Regions from separate parts of the Homo sapiens genome. Here region 2 is linked to region 1. The links come from fine-mapping of genetic effects on gene expression. A gene starts in region 1. The other region holds a variant in brackets. All regions are shown on one strand. Distances are between the middles of the regions.

Region 1 (5,379 bases):
CTGTGCCTCCCAGGTTGAAGCGATTCTCCTGCCTCAGCCTCCCAAGTAGCTGGGATTACAGACACCTGCTGCCATGCCCAGCTAATTTTTGTATTTTTAGTAGAGATGGAGTTTCACCATGTTGGCCAGGCTGGTCTCGAACTTCTGACCTCAAGTGATCTGTCTGCCTTGGCCTCCCAAAGTGCTGGGATTATAGGCATGAGCCACCGCGCCCAGCCCATTTGATTTCACCTTCTCAGGGTTTAGGTTCTCTGCTGCCATCTCACCTGGCTGGATGGCACATGTAACACTTAAAGCAAAGACTAATGTGCTGCAATGTTTAATCCACTCCCCCTGCCAGTTTCTCCTGCAAGTGTCTCTACACCTCCATCTTTCCTTGCCTGTGAATCCTCTCACTGGAGGAAAAGCACCCCTGTCTCTTCCACACATATCCTTTCAAGACAATGAAGCAGGAAGGGGGCCTTGCCTCATTCAAGCTGGTGGCTGTTGCTTAGTGGCTGACTAGAGTCTCACCCGGAACAGAAGGGTTGAAAGCCCAAGGGTGGTTCCCCTTGCACTGAATCAAGGGATGGACCCAAAAGCACCAGAGCCAGGGCCGTGACCTCTCTCCTGCTGCCTCTGCTCCTCCTGCAGTATCCTCTCTAGACATCCAGCTCACCCCCAGAACCTCTGTGTCTCCCCTGCCTTGGGCACCTTCTCCAGATCTCCTGCTTCCTGACCTTGTACCAGGGCCTCCTCCAGACTGGGCACACATTAACAGGTTAATAAATATTTTTGCAATAACAAATAGAAGTCAGCTCTCACTTCCTGTTTACCACTTCTGCTTGGTACATTTATCTTAATCTCTGCATCTTTGAACCAGGTTATTAATATGGCCCAAGAATAGACAGCAAACACATAGCTGCCCTGCTGAATGGTGTGGTGTTCCTACATGGCAGGCACTGAGCTGGAGGCTCAGACACAACAAAGACTGAAACAAAAGTGTAAAAAAGTGTCCGCTTTGAGAACCACAGTCAGAGCATAGCTATTGATGAGATTAATATGAATAAGCACATTAGTAAGAAATTAAAAATAAACCTAAACCACTAAAGACTTATTTTCTTTTAGGTTACATAGATGATAGATGGTTAATTATAGTGGCTGACATCGACTAAGCACTTTCTGCATGTCAGACACTGTGCTTCGGGCTTCCCGGAGCATAAAAACACATTGAGATGGATTATTGGGGGCTGGGGGTAGGGAAGGAGCTACCATTTGCTCTTGGTTTTACATGTGGCCAGTTTCAATCCAAGGTAAGCTACAATGAGATAAAAAAGTTCAAAAAAAAAATTAAACCAGTTAAAAAGAAAAACAGCACTGGGACTGAGGCTGGGTTTCAGAGCCAATTTCCAAGAAGTAATTTCATCATCATAGAACATCAAACGTGAATTCCACTCTCAGCTATGCAAATTCCAAAAGAATAATACCTCACATTTGCATAATGCTTGATGCTTTTCAAAGTGCTTTCCCAGTTATTAATCTAGAGAAGGCTTTATTACTACTGAAAACATAAATTAAAATTCTGTTCGGACTCCAGTCCTCCATTATTTTTTCCACTCACTTTGCCCTCAAAAGCCAGAGCCATCTAAATCCAGGTGCTTTTGATTGAATGGGTAACTCTAATAAGTTTAACTGACAGGGCGAATATGCATAAATGTAGCATATTATGAGGCCTTCGACCTACAGACACCAGAGTCAGCCTTAGGAAAATTTGCTGTTGAATTAACAAAACCACAGGGGAGCAACTCGGAGTTCAAGTTTGAGATCCTTTCAGGGTCTCAAATTTTGTAGGAGCTGCACACACTATGTTCATCAGAATCCATCTCCCTCTATCAACTATGAGAAATTAGATCTACCACTTTGTCCTTAACCCTACAGAAATCCCCCTCAATGACTTCCTGCAAAGAGGCCCACATTTGCCAAACAGCTCCTACGTCTTGTTTTGTTTTGAATGTAATATGAACCAAGAGGCTGAATTCACTGTAAATCCAACAAGGACAGAGGATTTTAGAAAAATGAGGTGAGGAGATATGACGGGGTTCAAGGAAATGCTTCTACCCAAACCTAATGCCTTTCCAATTTGTTTCTTTTTCCATCTCTTTCAAACTTAATTATGTGTAGCGTTCTCAGTCACTGAATCACCAGCCTTTCCTGACACTTCAATCTCATGCATTTTAGCAAAAGATTAACCTGGCTGTTTGCTTTTAATTCTGAAGCTGTGTTAATACTCACTCCCGCTAGATTAGAAAAGAAGAAAAACACACTCCCACATACCCCGCCATGGCACCAGCAAGGCTCCAGGGTGAGACGGCTGACGCTGTCACAGTCCCTAGGGCTGGCTGCACTTACCATTTCAGGAGGGCCAAGAGAGCCACTGACAGGGCCACCGTCACCATGGGGCCATTCACTTCCAATTTTAGAAACCCCAAGGCTTCCATCATTCCTCTGAGACCCCAGAGTGGTGGTCTTCCAGATGAGACAGGAGGCTGATCTCGCCGCCCTTATGGGAACCGTGCTCTGCAGGTAGAAAAGGGAACAGGCAACCAAGCAAACATCACATGGAGTGGGCCCCCACAATGTGCTCTTTCTCAGAGTGTCTCCCTATAAAGAGGAAGGAAGAGGAGGGCACAACAAAGGGTTTCAGTGTAAAGGAATGAATCAGCAACTTTATTCCTTGATGACTGCACTGTCAATAAACATTTATATTAACTTCCTCAGAGAAGAAAAGCAAACTTCCCCATGTTTGCTGAGAAACAAAATGGTTGTAACCACGGACTTGTACTCTGAGAGGAAGTCTTCAAAGAGAGACTCTTCTCCAAAATGTCTATCTATATCTATCTCTATGTCTATATCTATATCTATATCTACATCCATCTATAATTTTTTAAATTCACAATTAAGTGAAGATACATGTCAAGAGATTCTGAATATCCCAGAAAAATACAGGACCAGACGCCAGCCTGATCAAAATGCTGGCTGCTTTGAGGACAACCATCCCACCAAGTCCATTAGTTGCTGGGTCTGAGGACCTGTCTGAGTGTCTGGCTGTTGGAGCAAAGCAAAGATCCCGATTGGGGTCAGTGTTCTCATGGTGAGTTGGAGGGCTTCTCAAGTGTTTGAAGGCAGATCCGTAGGCTCATATATGGGTCCTTTGTTCTAGCTTTGAGCTTATCTGACTAAAGTGGACAGAGAGATGGAGGGGATCATAGTGGCTGGGTGGCAGGACTAGATTGCAGCTTCAGACAGAGCAGCATCTGGAGGCTTCCATGGTGAATTTTAGCTCCAGATCAACTGCAAGAAAAAACCAGCAATCCCAAAAGGACCCACAGACTCTCTGAAGGAACCAGACTGCTCCTGCAGGACCCAGAAGACACTCCAAATACTGTGAGTGCCCCATTTGCGGAAGTGGGAAAGGGAGACCCTCCTCTCCCAACACAATCCCCCAATATTGAATGGGAGAAATATTCAATGAAATAGCTTAAAGAAAAAATAATTGAAAATTCAGGAAACTTTGGACACACTTTTAGAAATGTGAAATGCTCTGGAAAGTCTCAGCAATAGAATTGAACAAGTAGAAGAAAGAAAATCAGAGCTCAAAGACAAGGTCTTCAAATTAACCCAATTCAACAAAGACAAAGAAAAAAGAATAAGAAAATATGAACAAAGCCTCCAAGAAGTCTGGGATTATGTTAAATGACCAAACCTAAGAATAATTGGTGTTCCTGAGGAAGAAGAGAATTCTAAAAGCTTGGAAAACATATTTGGGGGAAGAATCAAGGAAAACTTCTGCAGCCATCTAGAGACCTAGACATCCAAATACAAGAAGTACAAAGAACACATGGGAAATTCATTGTAAAAAGATCTTTGCCTCAGCACATTGTCATCAGGTTATCCAGAGTTGAGACAAAGGAAAGAATCTTAAGAGCTGTGAGACAGAAGAACCAGGTAACCTGTAAAGGAAAACCAATCAGATGAACAGCAGATTTCTCAGCAGAAAACCTACAAGCTGGAAGGGATTGGGGCCCTGTCTTCCGGCTCCTCAACAAACCAATTATCAGCCAAGAATTTTGTATCCAGTGAAACTAAGCACCATATATGAAGGAAAGATACAGTCATTTTCAGACAAACAAATCCTGAGAGAATTCGTCATTACCAAGCCACCACTACAAGAACTGGTAAAAGGAGTTCTAAATCTTGAAACAAATCCTGGAAACACATCAAAACAGAACCTCTTTAAAGCATAAATCACACAGGACCTATAAAACAAAAATACAAGTTAAAAAACAAAAGCAAAAAACAAACAAAGAAGTACACAGGCAACAAAGAGCCCGATGAATGCAATGGTACCTCACATTTCAATATTAACACTGAATGTAAATGGCCTAAATGCTGCACTTAAAAGATACAGAACTGCAGAATGGATAAGAACTCACCAACTAACTATCTGCTGCCTTCAGGAGACTCACCTGACACATAAGGACTCATGTAAACTTAAAGTAAAGGGGTGGAAAAAGACACTTCATGCAAATGGACACCAAAAGCCAGCAGGGGTAGCTATGGGCTTCCTTTTCTGTGCCCCCACAGGTCTTAGGATGGTCACAGGTACATTTGTTACAGAAGGCTGTGGTCACAGGTGCAGATTCCCTGGAAAGGAGTGAGAGAAAAGACAGGGAGGGCACACAGAAGGCTGCTGCCTTCACCCAGAGAGAAGGGATGCTTGGCTAGAGGAGAGAGGGAGGTGGGAAGAAGTAGATGGACTTGAAATATATTTTGGGGGTGGGTTCATGCTCTGCAGAAGTTCCTGGTGGGGTGCATATGAAAGGGAAGGGGAAAGGAGGACCACACCTGACCCTCAGGTTCCAAACTTGAGCTACAGGTATATCAGGTGCCATTCATTGAAACAGGGAGTCTGGGAAAGGTGAGGTATTGTTGGGAAAATCAAGAATTCTGATTCAGTTTTGTTAAGCCTGAGATGCCCTGGAGACATCTGAGTGGAGGTGTCGAGCCAGAGAGCACTGATGGCTGAAAATATGAATAATAACAATTGATCATGATCATGTCATTTGAGTGCTTACTACACACTAGTTATTCTAGGAGCTTTCCTATGTGTCAACTCATTTAATCCTCATACACACACCTAGCGGGTAAATCTTATGGTTAGCCCCAAGTTACAGAGGAAGAAACTGAGGCATGGGCTGTATGACTCTAAAGCCCATGCTCTTCCTCGAAAGATTATATTCAAACGTGGAAGCCATCAACATAAATTTGGTATTTAAATCCAGGGGAAGAGATGAGTTACAGCCACAAATAAGATAGTGAACCGCACAGGTGCCAAGAACC
Region 2 (5,379 bases), 120 kb before region 1:
TCCTGTAGATGGAGGGCGAGGGGGTCCCGTAGATGGAGGGCGAGGGGGTCCCGTAGATGGAGGGCGAGGGGGTCCCGTAGATGGAAGGCGAGGGGGTCCCGTAGATGGAGGGCGAGGGGGTCCCGTAGATGGAGGGCGAGGGGGTCCCGTAGATGGAGGGCGAGGGGGTCCCGTAGATGGAGGGCGAGGGGGTCCCGTAGATGGAGGGCGAGGGGGTCCCGTAGATGGAGGGTGAGGGAGTCCTGTAGATCAAAGCTGCAATGGCTCCATGAAGGCTGCCACGTGGAGGTGGTAACCAAGGCAGGGACAATGGCCTGGACAGCGCTATGGACGGCTGAACAACAGCTCAAGGAGCAGAATGTTCACAGCATAACACACCCAAGTGGAGAGATAGCAGAGCATCTGAGACTCATGAGTGCCCTGTTGCCAAGGCTCATGGAGGGAGAGCCATCTTGGGAAAATAGATTTGCTGTTCATAAAGCCACAGGGCTTAGAGCACTGGGGTGTTTGAACACTGTGGGGGAGCAAAAGATGTACTCACTCATTAAAATCCCATTACCTGGCCAGGCGTGGTGGCTCAGGTCTATAATCCCAGCACTTTCGGAGGCCAAGGCAGGCGGATCACTTGAAGTCAGGAGTTCAAAACCAGCCTGGCGGGCCAGCAGAGTGAACCCCCTCTCTACTAAAAATATAAAAATTAGCTGGGCGTGGTGGCAGGCACCTGTAATCCCAGCTACTCGGAGGCTGAGGCAGGAGAATCGCTTGAACCTGGGAGGTGGAGGTTGCAGTGAGCCAAGAATGCATCACTGGAATGACAGAGAGAGACTCCGTCTCAAAAAAAAAAAAAAAAAAAAAAAAATCCCATCACCTGCAACACTGGGCTATTCTTTCTTCGTTCTATCTGCAATGTAGTAAGTGTGCCTTCTAAGCCTCCCTTCAGTTCATTGGTCTGTAGGCAGGCCCTGGTGCAGAGCCTTGTGCCCCTCCACTGGACAGCTGGTTTAGGTAGCCGCAGAATCATTCATCATCACTGTTTTTGGATCTTGGGCTATCTGTGCATGAACCTAAGTAAATACTCAGCCAGGCACCGCTTTACTGATGAGTCAGCTGGGGAAGACTTTGTCAAATGATTTGTAGAAACAGAAATGTGATTTACCTCATCTACCTATCTGGAAGTCCACTCAAAAAAGAAAAATAAGTATGACTATCCTGATTTATTCTTAGTATCTCTGTGTTGATGCTTCATGACTACTGTATGCTTTTCTAAATTCTCACAAACCATCGATTTAATAATCCATCAGTACAAAAGGGTGTGCCAATGGGTCACTTAAAATGGTCTCTAGGCCCCAACTTCCAAGAAGTCTCAGTCTACCCTTAACATTGGAAAAGTCAGTACAGTCTAAGCCACATTTTTATAACTAGCTTTACTGGCTATCTTCCTTCGATTATCTTAATAAGTTTAGTGGTACAACTGAATCCTAGTTTAATAAAATCCCATAAACCTAAATACCTTTTAAATTTACTTCAGAGGAATAGTAACATGGTAAAAGAAAATCTGTCTATCTATCTACATATATATATGTACTGTTTGAAAGGAAGTCTTTTTAGATATCTAGCTTGAAGCTTTCTTAACATAACAAAAGAGATGGAACATAAAATGTGATTTACACACAACTCTTCAGAGGCATGCCCTGTGTATAAAGAGGGGGCCACCCATTCTGAATCCAAACATATTCCTGGACAGTGTGAAAGAAAGCCCAGGCCAGCTGCCCACCATCGGGTCTTCTACGTGCTTTTGACTAGAATCCTTTGTTGCTGCCTGACGTGATTGTAATTTTCTGCGATACTCTGCTTGCTGTCTGTCGAACTGAATGGATAATGACATTTTTATTTGGGTTAATGTGATATGAGATGGGGCATGTAATATGAAAAATGTTTTAAAAAGCAATGCAGAGAAAATATTATAAGACAGCCGAGCATAATCTGTATGTTGGCCAATAGCCATCATTTCAGGTTTTCTTCCTTGCATTTTACACAGCAGTTACGGAATATTTACTTTTACATGAGTTGCATACAAACAAAAGCTGTCTTTGATGGGCTTGCATAATCTTTATACAATCCACAAACCCCGCAGTTCTTCTCCTAGATTTTTGAACAAGCAGGCAAACGTGGCATGTGCACACACACACACATGCACAGATGAATACACAATGCTATTCTCACTCAGATCTTACTAAAAGATGCATTCGGTTGTTACATTTCATCTTCTTCATGGGATAATGAGTAATTTTTATTTTTTGTTTTATTCCAAATTTTTCACAATGCACATGTATTACACTTATAATCAGATAAAATATTAATGTTATTAGGTTTAAAAAAAGTGATTTATTGGGAGTTCTTATAGACTGAATGTTTGGGTTGCCTCAAAATTCATACATTGAAGCCCCAACTCCCAGTGTAGCTGTATTTGGAGATAGGGCTTCTAAGGAAGTAATTAAGGTTAAAGTCACAAGGATGGGGCCCTGATCCAATAGGATTGGTGTCCTTATAAGAAGAGACACCAGAGCACTCATGCTTATTCTCTCTCCCTCTCTCTCTCTCTCATGCACAAAGAACAGGTCTTGTGGGCACAGAGCAAGATGGCGGCTACCCACAAACCAGAAAGAGAGGCCTCCCTGGAAACCAACAACGCTGGCACCCAGCCTCCAAAACTGTGAGAAAATACATGTCTGGGCCTGGCACAGTGGCTCACTCCTGTAATCTCAGCACTTTGGGAGGCCAAGGCAGGTGGATCACTTGATGTCAGGAGTTCAAGACTAGCCTGGTCAACATGGTGAAACCCCCTCTCTACTAAAAATACAAAAATTAGCCAGGTGTG[G/A]TGGCCCGTGCCAGCAATCCCAGCTACTCGGGAGGCTGAGGCCAGAGAATCACTTGAACTTGGGAGGTGGAGGTTGCAGTGAGCCAAGATCACGCCACTGCACTCCAGCCTGGGTGACAGAGCAAGACTCCATCTCAAAAAAAAAAAAAAGTCTGTTGTTTAAGCCACACACTCAATGGTGTTTGGTTATGACAGCCCAAGCTAAGACCGGGGTTGCAGTGCAGTAGCCAAGCTAGGGGAGAAAGTTTCCCATTTTGTTCCTCTCGCCTCTCACATTGGTTGTCCCTACACAGGTGATGCCGAGTGTGAGGCTGAGCAGCTGTCTGGCAACCAGTGGTAACCATTCAGGGGAAATCACCATCCCCACCCTGGGAAGCAAATTCCCCAAGGAAGGAAGGTTCTGCATAACCTGGAGATTCTTATGTAATTAAAGTACCCAGTTTTTTAAAATTTTATTTTATTTTAAGTTTTGGGATACATGTGCAGGACATGCAGGTTTGTTACATAGGTAAATATATGCCATGGTGGTTTGCCGCACCTATCAACCCATCACCTAGGTATTAGGCATTAGCTATTTATCCTGATGCTCTTCCTCCCCCCTCCCCCAACAGGCCTCAGTGTGTGTTGTTCTCCTCCTTATGCGCATGTGTTCTCATTGTTCAGCTCCCACTTGTAAGTGAGAACATGTGGTGTTCGGTTTTCTGTTCCTGTGTTAGTTAGCTGAGGATAATGGCCTCCAGCTCCATCCATGTCCCTGCAAAGGACATAATCTAGTCCCTTTTTATGGCTGCATAGTATTCCATGCCATATATGTACCACATTTTCTTTATCCAGTCTGTCATTGATGGGCACCAGTTTTTTTTTTAATGGATTTTCTACCAACTGTGTCTGTGAAATTTTGAGTCAAGGTGCAGACAGAGGGCAACAGAGTGAATTCTAAAAGGAGGGAGGGCCTGATGAGTGGGCAAAGAGAGTAACGACCAAGAAGGGCTGAGAGCTTCTGCTCAAAGGTCTTCTTCTCCTCTCCTTTTGGGTGACTCACAGAATCTCATCACTGAGTTTCCTTCCTTGAGTGTAAGATTCCGACCTTGTTGGAGAATACTTGCCCCAAGCATAGCAAATACTCAAAGGCACTGCAAATTAGTAGGTTTCCTTCCCCTGGCACTTTATAGCTGTGTGATCTTGGGTACATTGCCTAACCTCACTGAGTCTAGTTCCTCATCTGCAAAAATGAAAATAATACCTCCCTTGAAGAGTCGTGACAAAGATTAGAAACAAAATATGCAAAACACTTGGCACAGAAAGCAGGGAGTGGTGTAAACATGGTAGTTGTCCTCTGGAGGGATCCGTCCTCCCAGGCTGGTTTGGACTACTGGAATCATTCTCTTCTCTTTTCTTGTTCCTCAGGGACAACTCCCCATTGGAGCCATCTGTTCTTGCCTCATCATGTTAACATTGCTTCCTTTCTTTCATCTGTTCTTTCATATTTATCTCCTCAGTCACCTCCTAGTTCAGGTGTTGCTACTTGTCACCTGGAATATGGTTGTCATCTTCCTTCTTGAGAAAAAAGACTATAGCCTAAGCATCTTTGTAGTCTTAGGACTTTGATAGTGCCTGACACCCAGGTGTACTAAAGAAAGTTCTTTGAAAGAGCTTCCTGGCCTCTTTTCTTTTCTTTTGAGACAGGATCTCATTCTGTCACCCAGGCTGGAGTGCAGTGGCATGATTACAGCTCACTGCATCCTTGCCCTCCTGGGCTCAAACCATCCTCCCATTTCAGCCCCTCAAGTATTAATATCTGGGACTACAGACACACACAACCACAGCTGGCTAATTTTTTTAATGTTTTGTAGAAACGGGGTCTCCCTATGTTGCCCAAGTTGGTCTTGAACTCCTGGGTTCAAACGATCCTCCCACCTTGGCCTCTTGAAGTTCTGGGATTACAGGCATGAGCCACCATGCCTGGCCAGATCTTCCAAAAATACTTGTTATTTCAGTAATGCTTTGCTGAAACATTTGTAGATCCCCACTGACTGAAGGACACAGTACAAGATTCTTATCTTCCAAAGTCCATTACGAATTGAATCCTGCTAATAACCGTGTGATGAGGCTTAGAAGCAGATCTTCCCCCAGTCAAGCCTTCAGATGAGACCACAGATCAGGCCAGCCATTTGACTACTACTCCAAGACACCTTGATCCCTCTGGCCTCAGCCCTCAGTCCCTCTGGACTCAGCCTTTGCACTCAGCTAAGCCATGCCAGGATTCCTGACCCACAGAAACAATGAGCTAACAAAAGTTTGTTTTAAGCCACTAAGTTTTGGGGTAATTTTGTTACACAGCAATAGATAACTAATACACTCTCAATATTGCTCTTTTGTGGTAACTATTGCATGTTGTCATGGATTAATGAAGTTTTTGGTATTTGTTATATCAAGAATGAGCATAGCACACCCCATTCTGTTGATTTTCTAGAAATACCTGTGTGATGACTGATTGATCA

The links. PIP is the estimated chance that this variant, and not a neighbour inherited with it, causes the effect.
Region 2: its variant is fine-mapped to the expression of TBXAS1 in whole blood (INTERVAL, PIP 0.97).

What each region holds. Positions count from the first base shown.
Region 1 is chr7:139,826,489-139,831,867 of GRCh38, reverse strand. TBXAS1 (thromboxane A synthase 1) reads right to left here and starts at 2,604. Exons shown (of 13, transcript NM_001061.7): 1 at 2,389-2,604. The coding sequence starts at 2,477. RefSeq lists an enhancer at 1,732-2,931.
Region 2 is chr7:139,945,518-139,950,896 of GRCh38, reverse strand. All of the region lies in intron 5 of TBXAS1 (thromboxane A synthase 1), which reads right to left. LOC105375532 (a long non-coding RNA gene) reads right to left here. Exons shown (of 2, transcript XR_928043.3): 2 at 3,750-5,379. Among named protein-coding and RNA genes, the nearest start is that of PARP12, 110 kb to the left of the region's middle. The variant G/A (reference allele first, on the strand shown) is at 2,879.